Linked DNA regions of Homo sapiens: region 1 is linked to region 2. A link means that fine-mapping ties the variant in region 2 to the expression of a gene that starts in the linked region. Tissue or cell type: whole blood. Region 2 holds a variant in brackets; the other region holds the start of a gene. All regions are shown on one strand. Distances are from middle to middle.

Region 1 (8,105 bases), 190 kb after region 2:
CCACACAAGCAGGAGAGACACCTGAACATGATATCCCCGGCTGCCCACCGGAGTCCTCTTGACTGGGAAGTACAATGTAGCTAAAAGTTTAAAAACAAATGATAAATAACTAGCGATTATTTATTGCATTTCAACATATAATGCCCCATCTCCTTCTCTGCCCTGAGATTCATTCACTCTCTTCACCCACCTAAATATCTCTGAACATCCCGTGCCAGAATTGCCTGATCCGTCAATAAGGCAAGCGCTTTCTAAACCTCTATGCATATGACTCAATTTGTCAGTAAAAACTGCCACCCGCGCTGTGCTTGCAGAAAAATGTCCATAAACACATTATTGCGACTGGCAGAACGATGTCTATAATAAAAACACATAGATTTAACAAGTACCTCCTTTCACAAGCCACGCCGCTGGTGGACTATCCATTCGGTGTCCCCCAGCCCAGACTTCTGGGAATGGGCGGCAGGGCTGGGTGGGAGCCTCTGCTGACTTCGCAAGCATCACAGGTAGGAAATTATTCTACCAAGAAACTTTTAGGAGTAGGAGAGTGAACACACCAGGCATTTATTGCACTCTCACCATTCCTTTCATGGTTACACACACTATGACTAATTTAACAACCCTAAGAAAATGTTTTTGTAGAATTTTTTACTGGTTTTAGAACAGCTACCTCCAGGTGGGGTGAAGGGGACACGAGGCCTCCTTGGAGAACCCTGCTCTGCTGCTGAGCCACTGATTTAACTGAAAACAACTTGTGGTGTCAAAACCAAGTTTCACCATTCAGAGCATCCGCATGGGCAGCTCCCAGGGCGGCCTATTCAGTTACTTAGCTGGAGGAGCTTCGGGAGCGCAGGCTGCTGAGGACTGGCTTTGCTGCCGGGACCGAGCACCTTGGCAGGACTCAGTGTTTGATTCCTTTCCGGGTGATCCACACCTGCCAAAGCCACTCTAATACTTCAAAGATCAACAAAGTCACAAAAATGATTTCTTCCTCTTCATAAATCACTTCAATAGCTCTATGAAGAAGTCAGTCATTCATTACATTCCATACTATATTCATTAGTTTCCCCCAAACTATGCAGCCCTCCGATATAAGCTGTACTGTTAATTTTTTTAAGTCAAAAGAAAACTAGACTATGTCCACCAACCAGCAGATATGCAGCAGTTAATGAAAAGCCACAGAACACACATCTTGCAACATTTGGTCCACAACACAAGGTCTCCAACTTCTACTTACCTATGTCCAAGACAGGCCTGCAGAGCTAACAGCGTAGGTTCACAAAATCCTCATGCCAACCAAGGACCCTCCTGCACAGCTCAAACCTCCTCCCTCCCATATAAATCCTTTCACTTCAAAACAAGAGTGGGGCGAAGGGCTGGCTTGTGCATCATGAGTGTCTATATAAAGACCACTCTCACCCCACAGTCAGGTGATGGTTTATGTGTCTTCTCTGATTTTAAATCCTTCAGGTTTCGTTTAAATAATATCCTGCGAGGCCAGGCATGGTGGCTCATGCCTATAATTCCAGCACTTTGGGAGGCCTAGGAGGGAAGATCACTTGAGTCCAGGAGTTCGAGACCACCCTAGGCAACATACGGAGACCCTGGCCTCTAAAAACAACAACAACAACAATTAGCCAGGTATGGTGGCGCACACCTGTAGTCCCTGGTACTTGGGAGGTCAAAGCAGGAGGTTCGCTTGAGCCCAGGAGCTTGAGGCTGCAGGGAGCTATGATCTCACCACTGCACTCCAGCCTGGGCGAAAGACCAAGACCTTGTCTCTAAAAATAATAAAATAATATTCTGCGGTAAGACCCCAGCTCTTTCAGAAAGTAGCTGCATTAAAAACTACTTGTCCCAGGAAACAGAGGGTCAGGAAGGACCGTAGCAACAGCCCAAGAGCCGAATGAGCACAGGGCCCTGCAGGGTCTGGGAGGCTCAATGTGTCCCCTGGAGGGACTAGAGTCCCAAACGGAAGTCAAAAATCTCAGGGCAAGTGGATCTGGACATGGAACTTTATGCTGGGGAAGGGGGTCAGAATGAAGTGCAGAAACAAGAATAATGCTAAAGGAAAAGATAATGCAGAAAATTCAGTTTTGCCTCCATTTTTTTTCTATCAAAGAGAATATACTGAAAAGAGCATTAGCACCAAAAAGAAAAATGGAAGGTCTGAATCACTGGCTCCTAAATGTGTGTCCTCTGCAAAACAGAACAGACAATTTAGTAACTTTATTTTATTATAAAATACTGAAAGAGTCAGGGTTTTGGTGTCCTAAGAAAGGGTGGGAAGAGGACTGGAGAGGAACAAACTCTGAGGGGGCAATGGGGAAGGCAAGTTCTTTTTCAGGCCCTTCCTACCCCCTTCTTCCCTGCAAAAGGACAGAGGAGGCCCTGATTGAGACACCTGGGGAGGAAACCCAAACAACGAAAAGTAAGGCCCAGGTGATATCAAAGTAAGACCTCAACAAGGTTCAAGAATCTGAGCAGCTGAACAAGGTGCTACCCAATGTATACCTAGGGCTCTATTTCTTTCAACCTTACTAACAGCAAAGCCTTTTTAAAGTAGTGCCTAATACTATTAGTTAAATCCTTATTTTGATACAGATTTTTTTGTTTCCCCTTCAGGACAGTTTCACTCTCGTCGCCCAGGTTGGAGTGCAATGGCGCAATCTCGGCTCACTGCAACCTCCGCCTCCCAGGTTCAAGCAATTCTCCTGCCTCAGTCTCCCAAGTAACTGGGATTACCAGCATGCACCACCACGCCTGGATAATTTTTGTGTTTTTAGTAGAAACTGGGTTTCACCATGTTGGCCAGGCTGGTCTCAAACTCCTGACTTCAGGTGATCCACCCACCTCGGCCTCCCAAAGTGCTGAGATTACAGGCGTGACCCACTGTGCCTGGCCCAGATTTTTTTTTTTTAATGAAGATATATACATTGAAAAGTACCTGAGTATAGCTCCGTACTGGTGGTCTACTTCATCCAGGCCCCTGACTGTGGCAGACACTACTCCACTATTCAAATTCCAACCCGAGACAGAGGGCCCAGGAAGAAAGACACGCGGCAGAGCAAGGCCAGCTCTCCTCTGCTACTTGCAGGCAGACTCCGGGTCTGGGCAAGTATCCTGGCCCTCTGAGTTAACGTGATATTAACAATCAGCCAGGCTCTTGACGCGGTTTCCTTCAAAGTTTTCACACCCCCACCCACCAGGTGCGCTAAGCTTTGGGTTTTTAAAATCTTGTTCATCTCCCAGAGTGTTTTAGCCATTGAGAGGGCCCTGAAAATAACAAAACCATCTCCTAGACACCTGCCCAGGGATGGGGGAGATGACGGGAGAGCCTGACTTAACAGATACTCTATAGGTTTCTATTTGGATGTCTATGTAAATAACCAGTCTAATTCTCAGCTCTCTGTGCTTAACATTCTACTGAGAACAGCTCTCTGGACCAAGCCGCTTCCCTGTCTGATGATGATCTCAGCAGGCATAGGTTGCACACACATGTACAAAGTCTGCTTTCCAGGACAGAAAGCCAGCTACTCAGCTGAAGCAACTGAGAGCAAACACCACCCTGAGATTTCAGGAGATGATGAACCCAGGAGTGCGAAATACATAGTTCAGAACTCCTCTGCGGTGTTATAACCGACATTACGGTGCCCAGTGTGTGTGGCTCTCCAGCGAGCCTTGCTTACTCTAAGTGTTGATGAATACAGTTAGGGTATGATGTACACAAACACCAGCCATAGTAACCAGAAGGCCCCTAGAACTTGGCCTCCAGCAGGAAGGAAATATGGGACTCTGCCTAAGTATGCTAAAGGGTTGCTGCAAGCCAAGGCCCGCGCAGGGGCTTCTGGAAGCTTCCTGGAGCAGCTGGCGGAGGGAAAGCTGGCAGCATGGAAGGGTAGGAAGAACCCGGGGCCCGGGCCTGGGGCTGGCACCTAGAGGTAAGGCAGGGGCTGCCACGACCCCCGCCACACGCCAGTCCACAGTCACTGCAGCGCAGCCTAGTCCAGGAACCCCAGGCCCGGGGAAAGGCTGGGCAACACCTGGGAGGCACTTGGGGCGCACCTGGAGCTCGCCCGGGATGGGTGGGGGTCAGGGCGGCCCCACACCCGACGGCGAAGTGAGGGCGCCTGCAGGACCACTCGAGGCTGCCACCGTCCCGAGGGAGAGCTCCGCACTCTTCCGGGAGCGAGGCGACCCAGACACTCACCAAGTCGCAAACGGTGCGCACCGCGAGGACCTGCGGGCGTCGGGACGCAAAGCGTTCTAGGGGCGCGGGCTGTCCCAGCATATCCGGGGCGCGGGGGCGGGGCCGAGGGGCACGGGGATGGCGGCGTGGGGCGGGGTCTAGAGCGGGGCGGAGCCGAGGACCTGAGAAAAGCAAGAGAGCGCGCGGGGGCGGGGCCGGGGCGCGCGGGGGCGGAGCTGGGGCGGAGCCCGGGAGGGGCGGGGTGTTCCCGCCCGACCGGGTCGGCGCATGCCCTGTGCGGCGGCGCCGGGCCTGAGGCAGTCTGCGCATCCTCGCTGGACGCCGGCACGCCGGCCCTGGTCCTCCGGCAGCGCCGCTGCCCTGTGCGCCTGACCCGGATGGCCCTTCGGCCGGTACAAGCCGGGCGGCGCCTTCCCAGCTTCCGCCTGAGGCTCTGTGCCTTAGTTTGCCAAATGGCCCGTACCTTTTCCTGTCACAGGGATAGTCCGCGGGCGTGCAAGCGACCTGCCACGTGCCCGAGTGGTCCTGAAAGCGCGCGGGGGTCGTAGGACGGCGCCCGCTTAGTGAGAATCCCGGTCCTGCTCGGGGCGGCTACGCTGAGCCCGGAGCGCGAGTCTCTCCCCTCCTGGTGCCGCTCCCCTAGTCAGGGACCCCCAGACCAGCAGAGACCCTGTCAGGGGGCCGTGGGGGCAGCCTCCAGGGCCTGTGGTGGGCGATGCCGTCCAGGGGCTGCAGTCACCGATGGCCTAGACACTGCCAGAGCCTGACTCAGCCGCTCTCCAGAGAGCACACAGGGTGCCAGGCCCTGCTTGGGGTTGTGTGGACGTTATTAGGAGTTGAATTGTGTCCACCAGAGAAGCTATGTTGGAGTCCTAACTCCCAGTACCTCACAATGTGACCTTATTTGGAGATGGGGACTTTACAGAAGCCATCAATTAGTGGGCCCCTCATCCAGTATGACTCGTGTCCTTATAGGCAGAAGGCCGCTTGGGGAGGAGGATTGGAGGGCTGCACCTGCAAGCCACCAGAAGCCTAAGAGGACAGACCCTTCCCTGGAGCCTTCGGAGGGAGCAGAGGACACTCTTCCCTGGAGCCTTCAGAGGGAGCAGGATCCTAACACACCTGGGTTTCAAACTTCTGGCCCCCGGAAGTGTGAGACAATAGGTTTCTGTTGTTTTAAGCCACTCAGTGTGTGGCACTTTATTATGGCAGCCCCAGGCAATGGGTACAGAAACCATTGTCTCTAACGTGGTTGGCATAAGCACCCCAGGGAGTAGTATCATCCCTGGAGGCTTCGGAGAGGTCACACACCCCTTGGCAGGATCCCATCCAAGGCCCACATGTTCTAAGCCACCATGCTACGGGCCTTCTAGGTTCTGTTTGTTATCTTAATGGAAAGGGGTCTTCACCTTCCCGGTGAAGTTTCCCTGTTGGGATTCGGCCAATGCTCATACCTTCGTATTTGTGACTTGCAGGATCCAACATATTAGCATGAGTGATAAGGGTTGTTCAGAGGAGAACTTCAGCAGGATTTGCTTTGGGATGAGCCCTGGTGACAATACAGGCTGCATCATTGATCCTCTGAGGTTCCCCACCCCGACCCTGCCTTGGATGAGACATGTTTTAAATAGCTGCTTGTGGGAAATAAACTAGGCCCTGAGTACACGATATAATGGTCAAATCAAGGCACTTTTTCCCCACTGAACCTGGACACAGCCTCGGAATCCTTCTCAACACTGTGTTCCAAGCAGCCATTCACATTTAAACTAATGTGGAAGGACAGATGAAACATGTTTGCCCTTGGCTCTGGTTTTTTCCATTAGCCTTCTATAAGACTTCGGGAAACTCGTCTGACTTCTCTAATCCTCAGTTTCATACTCTGTAAAGGAGTCTCATGATAACGTACCCTACGTGTGTACAAACTATCCTTCCATATTAGGGCATGTGTGCATAGGGAAAATAAACCACCAGCACCACACCACACTACTAAGAAATAATGCTATACACCTGGCCACTTACAGCCTGTTACTACCAGGACCCAGTTAGAACCGGGATCTTAATAGAACCAAAGGAAAAACAATGCCGAAATGGAATCAGAGTGCCGACTGATATTCTAACAAGTGTGCTGTTAAGTAGTTTTGCAGTTAACACATGACTCATACGTTTATCTGAATAATATTTTAAGACGAATCCCTAAACTCTTAAGAAAAAGAGACTGGCCAGTCTTAGCATCTCTAATTCCCCACCCTAGGAAAGAAAGGCCAATGTGGTCATCCAAAGGCCCTTTAGGAGGGCCCTGTGGGAATGGGGAGGCGGTCCACGAGAGAAAGTGCTGGCTTCCCAGGGAGATGTGTGGACCTGGCCCTGGCTGTACTGAAAGAACTCAGTCCCCTTGCTGGCGTGGTGGGAAGAACTATGTGAAGGGCCACAGCTACTTCAGTGGTAAGGACTGTGTCAGGGGCTCCAGGATCAGGAGCCAAATAAGGGTCTCAGTGCAGAGGGGAAAGAGGAAAAAGGCCACCACCTGACCAAGGACTGGCCTGCAAAAGACCAGGATTCAAGGATGTGACTGCTTAGGCTGTCTGATGAGCAGAACTCAAACTCACACTCCTTACACCTGCTGGTGCAAGCTCCTCCCTTCATCATGGTAATTTCAAAAACCCAAGTTTTCATCAAGAGCTCCCCACGCCTCTCCCCCTTGTCCCATTACAATCTCATCATCGCCTGTGTGTTCGTCCTACTGTTAAAGGAACACAGGATGGCTCCAAAGCCGGGAGGTCGCCGGGTCCACTGAAGAGTAAGGAACACAGGACAGGGAGGCTCGGATGTGGTGCCAGCCCTGCCCCTCACTGAGCAACCACCTGACTTCTCTGTTCATAGGATGACAGTGCAGGACTGGTTGGGTGAGATTCCTTTGAGGTCTCCCATCTTCAGATTAACAAATCACAACCCCTTTTCCTCCAGACACAGATTCCTATGAAGAACTTTTTACAAAAGAGGTGGGAAAACCACAAAAGGGTATGCTCAACTGCAGTCCGACTTCCTCAAGGAGCTCCCTGGATTTCCTTTAAGATCAGCCAGCTTTCTTGTGGGCACTGGGAACAATGTTAATCTGCATAGTTTCTTTAAACATCCAAATGGATACCTTTCGGGTTAAGCAAATGAACATGACATGCGATTGCTTCTAATGATTTGCAACCCAAGAAATTTGTTTAATAAGCCTGTCTTCCCAAGCTACTTTTGTGACATTAGAGACCACTTACAACAAAGCTGCCTTCAGTAGTCAAACTTAATCCTTACTACCCTACCTTTGGGAAATGAAGGGATTTTATAACGATCACATAAAACCTTATGTGGTTTGAAAGCCCCAAACTCCGGACAAATGTGTGATGGTCGTGTAACAAAAGAAACATATTACAGAGCTCCCCACGTTAAGTGTTTTACATATAGTTTGCTTTTAGGATAGCATCTCAAGTGGAGGGTTTTGCTGATTAACACAATTGATTTTCTTAGTCCCAGTGTTCCTGTAAATGTTGGAGCCAAGAGCTGGAGTCAGCGCCTTGGACCTGGGAGAGGCCAGGAGGCCAGGGAGCCTCAAGCACTCTGGAGGAAGAAGCCTGAAATGAAAAGGTGGGGGCCATCGGTACCGGGGTTGAATGCCAGGTGCTTCTGATTACGCTCCTGTGTGACACTAGTTGTCAGCATGGCAGAGGCATCATGGTGTAACTGCAGCAGGGAGTGTAATCTACTAGTGGGCAGGAGAGAGGGCGGGAAGGAGGGACTTCAGGCTTTGCCTCACATAGAGGGTAAGGGAATGGTGCAGGGTGGAGAAAGGGGATGGAGGTGCAACTAAAACAGGAGGGGCTCCTTAGCTCTTGCTTTCCTCCAAAGAGGC
Region 2 (8,105 bases):
ATAAGTAAATCAAAGGAGAAAAAAATATAATTGGCTAATAAACACAGAAAGTTGCACAACATCAATAGTTGTCAAATGTAAGCTTTTTGAAAAATAAAAAGCCATTTTAGAAATCCTCTGCAGAGGTGTGAGAAATGGACGCGTCTTTATTACTGCTGAGAGTATGAGTTGGTACAGCCTTATGAGGGGGGTCTGGGCTGCATCCGTGAACATTTAAATGTGTATGCCCTTCGGCCAAACAATTCCTCTCCTAGACGTCTATCCCACAGAAATACTTGCACACAGCACAGAAATACAGACATACACAAATGTTCATAACACCATAAAAGCAAAAAAAAAAAGTTGGAAATAAACTAAATTTCCACTCAAAGTGGGAAAAGTTAATAAATTACAGTAATCCATAATACAGAACCAGCTGCGGAAAGCCTATGATATATTAGGAAGTTAAAGTCCTACTCACAAAAGAATATACTATGTACTCTCCAGGTAAAGGCAGGTAAGAACAGGGAAGTATATTTACAACAGAAACAGATTTATAAGGTTGCATTCCAAAGGACTAAGACTGATTGCTTCTGGAAAGAGGATTTTACGGCTGTACTTCCAGAGTTGAAGTTTTTAAAATAATAAATTTGTGTTACTTTAAAAATTTTCAAGTCAAAGAAAGGAAAAACAATGTAAAATCAACAGTGACATACGAACATTCCCCAGAAAGAGATACTCCCTACTCCGGCTATGCAAACTGTGCATGTGTGTGCGTGTGTGTGTGTGTGTGTGTGTGTTGGGGGTGGGGGATCTTCCTCTTTGTGAAAAGAAAAGGTCTCCCTTGAAGTCTTTGCATATTTCTGAGGGGTTGGCCCCCCGCAACCTAAGCACATGCATTAATTTCACATTATGGAAACCCACAGCAGAGGCAGGAGAGAAAGATGGAATCAATTCAGATAATGGTGGAGGGCTCCATGTCCCTCAGCATGCTGAAGAGGAAGCAAGGCTGCTGGGACAGAAAAGCTGCCCTTCCCAGCCGACTCCCCACTGACTCTGTCAGAGGGTCCCAAGGCCTCTCTGCAGTGCTCTGTAGGTTCTTGGGTTTTTTGTCTGTTTTAATCTCAAGTTTGATGGGGTATCAGCTTTGTAAGGGCAGAAACTATGTTTTCTTCTTCCCCAAGGTGCTCCCCCACACCTTAGCCTCTGAAGAAATGGCTGCAGGACGCCTTCCAACTAGAACCCCTGAGACAGACCACAGGCGAACAGCACTCGCCCATCCGCCGAGATACCACCCCATGCTATCAAAAAGGTTAATGTAATACTTTAACTGCAAAAAGATTTACACCAGCACGTGTTCTGGGAAATGAAAAAGAAGGATTAATAAATGAGTGCTCAGAAACGAAACCACAATTGGCAGGGAGATGAAAAATCAGAATGGGGTAAAAGTGACAGGAGAGAAAGGAGGAAGTTATAAACTTAGCTCTGAAAAGACAAATGGCTGTTGGAATTGGCAGTAAAAAACCAAAATGTCGCAAGAAATAATTGTTCATTATTTAGAAGAAAAGCACCAAAGACCACGCAAATCCTTCACTGCACGGGTGATGAAAGAGAAAACACGGCCTCATCTTCCAGCATCTACTAATGCCATAGAGAGCTGGGGAGTGGGGCAGGGATATTCGGATGACCACCCTACGTCCTGTCGCCCGTGCCCAAACATCAGGTGCTGGGCATCCGCCATTACTCAATTTCAAAGGCAATCTTTAAGGAGGACTTTGGTTCAATTTAGACTTTTACTTCTGTTTTCGTGTCAGTCTATAAATGTCAGAACACTTTTTCTAAAGTTTAATACTGTTCCAGAAAAGCTCTCCTGGCAGCTACTCATGGAATATTTTCGGGCTAAACTGCTCTTCAAAATTTCACACAGTCATTCATCTTCAGGGCCTTTGTACATGCTACTTCCTCACCCCTCAATTTGCACTAACTCATCATTAAATAATAATGCCAGTAGCCTCGGAACTAATATGCATGCTGTGTGACTTTCACTTCTGTTCTCATGAGCAGGTACAATGGCCTGTGTTCTCCAGAGAGCTTGCCATGAAGCTAACTCCCTTACGCCGTGGATAGAGGCAGGATCTGTTCTATCTCCAGCCAAACGCATTTAGAAAACAACCCAGGCAGAGACAGCTACATCTGAGTATCTTTTTTTTTTTTTTCCACACAGGGAGTCTCGCTCTGCCACCCAGGCTGGAGCGCAGTGGTGCGATCTTGGCTCACTGCAACCTCCGCCTCCCAGGTTCAAGCAATTCTCCTGCCTCAGCCTCCCGAGTAGCTGAGACTACGGGTGTGCACCACCATGCCCAGGTAAGTTTTGTATTTTTAGTAGAGATGGGGTTTCACTGTGTTGGCCAGGCTGGTCTCGAACTCCTGACCTTAGGTAATCCACCTGCCTCGGCCTCCCAAAGTGTTGGGATTACAGGTGTGAGCCACTGCACCCGGCCTTGAGTATCTTCTGAAACAACATGAAGTCATCAGAACCAAGGATTTTTTTTTGTTATTGTTGCAGCCACAAAATCCAAAGCTAGTGTATTAAGATAACATTGAATGGTACCTATGCCACAGATGGAGCTAAAATGTATACAAGAAATTACAGCGACACCTGGGAGGCCTTGAATGCTACAGCTTACAGTAGCCTACAGGGGGCGTTTTCAGCCTTAGGGTTGGGCACGCGAGCTAAGGGCGAGAACAGCAGTTAAGGACACTGAGGAAGGGGCCATCTAGGCTTCAGGATGTTTGTAAACAGGCTGGAATCCAGCTAGCCAATCAGGTTAATACATTATGACACAGAAATGTGGTGTTAATTTCATTTCAATCAACTAAACTTACTTTCTTGCGAAGATAATTTCTTCCAGGACATGTCAAATCACTGCAGAACTCCAGGATGTGGTGAGCTCCCTTGCTTTTAAAGAGCAGGCTGGGCTTCAATTCTCAAAGCATGATATTAGATATTTAGATATGTGAAAAACTCACTGACGTTAATGGGAATAACATGGACTTTCAAAGCAAGATTTCAAAATGTTGGGGTTAAAAATCCTACTGAATTAGAATCAAATAAGTCTCTAAGAAATACTGGCAAGCTAACGCAGTGCATACCAGGCGTGCTCTGAGGGTCACCTGTCATTCAGCATTTTGGTGTTGCTCTCAATGCATATTTTATAAAACAAATAGAGTAGCAAATCCCTGTGTCTGTTTTAAGGTGGCAAGGCAAGGCGACGCTGTTCGTCATTAGTCAATAATAGAGCTGTGTTAGTCTAATGGTGCCGCTCTCCCTCCCTTGCAGACCTCCAGGGCAATCACCTGTAGAATTATCCCATCTGCTGCAGCGGGAGCCAGAAGCCCGTCTTCCATTTTAGTTCCTTACTTGGGATTCATAGAAGGGGGAAAAAACTCCACAATTAGGTCTTTCAAGAAAAAGAAAAGAAGCAAAAACAAAACAGCATAATAGGACCAGGGAGATCACCTTTAGGTTTTGAAAGACCCCCAGAGATTTGATGATCTTTGGGGGATGGGGGAGAACTACCAATCTCAACACCACATTAAATATACATTTACGAGAATTTCCTCAGCCAAAGAAAATAGGATAGAGGTGCCAATTAGGGAAGGGCCGGTTCAGGCTTTGCACTCATGGGATGGGGGCTCCTCACTGGAGGGTGGCAAATCCTCCCATTCCCAGC[A/G]TCTCCATGACAACGGGGGCCTCATGAAGTCAGGCCACACTGCTAAGGGTCAGTGTGATGACTCCACACACGCTAAGAGGCCGCAGTCCTTGTGGGTCCTTGGGGGAGAGGGGGTGTGTGTGTGTGTGTGTGTGCGTGTGTGTGTGTGTGTGTGTGTGTGTGTGTGTTGGAGGAGCTGGCCAGCCTGTCCCCCCCCCAGCTCCAGCTCCTCCTCCAGGCTGTCAGAGGCCATTTCTTCAGCAGTCACCACATTTAAAACTCACCCCATCCCTCCTCCCTGCTTTAGAATTCTCCAAGACACTGACCAGCACCTGACTTTGAACTGTATTTTACCTGTTTCTTCTGTCTCACGCCTGCCCCACCTCCACCCCCAGACAAGACAAGGGGCGCCTCAGGGCAGGGTTTATCTGTTTTGTTTGTTGCTCCCCCCCCCACCCCCACAATCCCTAGAATGCAGGAGGTCCTTGCTAAGTATTTGTTACATTAATTAAAGGAAGCTGGTAGATTTCTGGCCTATTTCACAATTACTTGCCAATAAACAGTCACATACATGTGTATTCCTGAATTTTCAATGGAATGCATCAGATGGGTAGGAAAATCCCGATTCGAAGCACTTAAAACCAGCATGAGGAAAGGAAGCTAAGGGACAGTCGTCTGTGTCAACTCTGGGCAGGTAAACACACTTAAATCCCCAAGACAGGGTATCTGTCCCCAAATGAAACACAATTTGCAGTCTATGGGATCTTTTACAGTTACTTAGAACTTGCTAAGTGGTTGCAAATCCCTAGCCTAATTCATAGAGCTCACCTAACTCACAGTCATTGTGGCAGCTTTAGATGTCTTAGAAAATGAAGTGCACTATTTTCGCTGCCTTCTGCGTGGAAGTTCTTTTGGGTTAAGAAGCCCGAGAGTTGGGTCTGAGACGTGTGGAAAAACCCTCCTCCCAGCATGAAAGGAGAACCTTGGGGCCCCCAAATTACTAATCTAAAGGGGAAAGTCAAGCTGGAAACTGCTCAGGGCCAACCTGCCTCCCGTTGTATTCAGTCATCCCTCTGCTCACAGAGAGAAAGACATCTCTGATTGCCTCCTTTGGAGAGGCTTATCAGAAACTCGGTGCAACCACTTGACTCTCACCTACCTGTGACCTGGAAGCCCCTTCCCTGCTTCGAGTTGTCCCTGCCTTTCTGGACAGAACCAATGTACTTCTTACATATATTAATTGATGTATCATGTCTCTCTAAAATCTATAAAACCAAGCGGTGCCCCGACCACCTGGGGCACGTGTCATCAGGACCTCCTGAGGCTGGGTCACAGGCGCATGTCCTTAATCTTGGCAAAATAAACTTTCTAAATTAACTGAGACCATCTCAGATATTTGGAGTTCACACCAGAAAGGACATGCCGATGCTGCTTCCAGAGGCCTGGAAGTAGGCCCCACCCCTCCTCACCCTGCAGGAGGCAGTACCAAGGAACTCCCAGGGAGATGCCCAACCAGGAGCCCTCCCATGCTCGGGGCTGAAGCCCATGTTCACTGGGCAGATAGTGGCCACAACTGGTTCCCAAGAGAGGGGCTCTTGCTGCCCTCATGCCATGGATGTTTGTCACCTCCCGACTGCAGTCCAGACTCCACTGAAGATGAGTCCTGGGTGACAGCTTACATAGAACTGTAGTGCCATAGTCCTGAAGGGACTCCAGGAGGGGCACCGCACCAACTACCTCACCTCTCCTTGGCCTTTCACCTGGGTTCCCTGGAATCAACAGTCTGCATCTGTGATGTGTCTGGTTAATTCAGGGGTTGTCCGGTGAAGAGCTTGGCTAGCTGACCCTTCTGAGACCTTAGCTCAGTCCCCAGGCCAGGGCACCTCTGACTGCTGCCCGGCTAAGCTATCTGGGACCGCTGTTGCCAGTTTATTTAAACACGTGGAACTTCTCATCCACGTTCTTTCAGTGCAAAATCAGTGCCTGCTCTATATGGACACTGTGCGTTTCCTCCAGAAACACATGCGCTGTGTGTTTACCATGTGCTTTTGCAAGATTTAGAGAGCATGAGCATGAAGAGAAAATCCAAATCCATCCAAAGTGAAATTCCCTCCTGCTCACGTAACGACAACCCACAGCTATACTGAGGAACAGCTCCCTTCCTGCCTTCACTGTTAAACAGTGATTTTCATTTATATTTTTCTCCTTTTCAAGGGATTACAAAGTGTTTTACAAACTCATCCCTGTTTGTTTATGCCAGTCCCTCAGCCGGGCGAGTCACACACGAACATGCACAGAAGCCACGAGAGCTCTCCTGCAAGGGTCACAAGGAGACAACAAAGGTCTGGACGTTTAAAACTCAACGGGGAAGATTTTCCTGCTCTCCCCACCAGCTTCCGGGATGAGGCCCTCTAGAAGCGTCAGGGTCAGCGCCTTGGAAAATCAGACCTTAATGGGTTTTAAAAATGGTAATGTGTGAAAGAAATGTGTCTTCAACTGAGTCTAAAGACAGATAAACATTGACTTCCAGCCATGCAAACCACTTCTCCGCATGCTCGGAGGCGGCCCCTCCACACCAGGCCAGTGAGGCTGCTCAGGTCTTCACTCCTGGCAGACACACAGGAAACCACGGCAGTGCGCAGCCCTGCATCTGCCCAGGCCCTCCGCGGGGCCCCCACGGGACTGTGTCCCACCCCTACACTGGCTGGGGAATGGCTGCAGTGCTTTCTTTCCATGCATACCTCCGGGTGGGTGCACAAACGTCCTTAAACCAGGAGCACCTCGGTAGTGTGCTGACACCAGGGATGAGGGTGCAGCGGTCACCCTCTCCATCGAGCCTGAATGGTTTCCTCCCACTGCTGCTCCACAGGCACTTCCTTAGATGCAAGGAATTTGCAAAGACCATTATAAGTGATTTCCACTGATTTTCAGTGGGAAATCCCACTTCTCTGAGTTAGAAGAATAGTTTTCTTCTCAGGCATTTGTAGAAACAAGTGACCCACTGTGGCTTGTGCCGTCACATTCCAAATGCCCATACAGCCCCCCACCCTCAGGTATCACGTGTCATGACAAGGGGCCTAAGGTAGAGGTATGGGCAGGAGGGGGCCCTTGTCCTGCCTGCCAGGGCCAGACAAGCTTCCCGAGACCCCGGCCACCTTCCTCATACCTCAAGAGGCTTGCACACCCCTGCCTCCTCCTGTCTCTCCAGGGACTTACCCACCCATACAGGCCCTGTGCTCCAGGCAGCAGGTCCCTCACAGCCCTCCAAGCAGCCAGTGGGAATGGGGAATGCCCTATCTCAGCCCCCGCTGAGGCTGGTGTCTCGATCTGAGGTTCACAGTGACGGTCAAAGGATGCAGGCTCAGAGTGAGCAGGGGTATGTGATTTCTGTCCACTTAACACAATACCAAACTACATACTAAGGCACAGAAGGTAAAATATGAGCACCTTCTCTTCTACCACAAGAGGCTTCAAAGACATGGGAGAGTGTGGCAGGTGCCCGACCCCGCGTGCAGGTCCTCCAGGTCCCAGGCCTGTCTCTGTACCCGACCTGGGCACCTGCTCCACGCCCTGCACCCCTTTCCATCCTCGCCCTTCCCCAGCATGGATCTTCAGGTCTCTCTTCTCATGAAGCTGAGGTCTTGCCGTCTTCTCGGATCCCAAACCACAGATGGGCTACCTCACCATCCAGCTTCCCACCTGCATCTTTATCAGCACAGCTACTCCAGCTGCAAGGCGGGGGTCGGCGAGGCAGCCACCGAGGTGGGCAAGGACAGACAGGCGTGGAGGGTGCAGTAGTAGGGTGTGGCCCTCGCTCTGGGCCAGCTGTGCCCAGCACAGGCCGCAGTCTTGTCAAGGGGGAGGTGGGGTCTCCAAGCAGGGGTCTCTGAGGGCCACCAAGTTCTCCCCGCATCCCCAAAGGTGGCTCCACCTGGCCCCTTGACTGCAGGGCCGCTCTCCTCTCATCCCCAGCACAGGGTCCTCCTCATGCTTCTCCTGCCCCTAGCCCACCTGACACTCTTCACATCTGGAAATCTGTGCCCTTCATCCTAAACACCCTGGGCTGTGGGGCCTCAGTGATGCAGAAATAGCCTTCCCAGAAGGCTGTGACGGCCACCACGCTGTGCTTCCTGAGGCCTGTCCATTCGGCTCCCTGCCTCTTGTTTAGCAGAAGCATTGGCCATCACATGATGTAATCTTGCAAGCTGCCTGAGACATCTCATAGGGTGGGCCAGTCCAGTGCTGACCACAGTCAAGGGCCACCATCAGGGAGGCCACGTGAGGCCACTCCATTGGTGATCAGGGTCGGGTTTGCAGGCGTTACCCCTCCCACACGGGCCATCTCTGCAGCACCTCGGCCTGGGGGCCACTCAGTGTTTTGTAGAGGGAGCAGCCTTGATTAGTAATACACAC

The links. PIP is the estimated chance that this variant, and not a neighbour inherited with it, causes the effect.
Region 1: it holds the start of MGMT, and the variant in region 2 is fine-mapped to the expression of MGMT in whole blood (INTERVAL, PIP 0.96).

What each region holds. Positions count from the first base shown.
Region 1 is chr10:129,463,402-129,471,506 of GRCh38, reverse strand. It overlaps MGMT (O-6-methylguanine-DNA methyltransferase), which reads right to left and starts at 4,266. Exons shown (of 5, transcript NM_002412.5): 1 at 4,211-4,266. RefSeq lists silencers at 3,967-4,166, 4,187-4,626 and an enhancer at 3,478-4,400.
Region 2 is chr10:129,653,450-129,661,554 of GRCh38, reverse strand. The region is part of intron 2 of MGMT (O-6-methylguanine-DNA methyltransferase); the gene reads right to left. Among named protein-coding and RNA genes, the nearest start is that of MIR4297, 190 kb to the left of the region's middle. The variant A/G (reference allele first, on the strand shown) is at 3,714.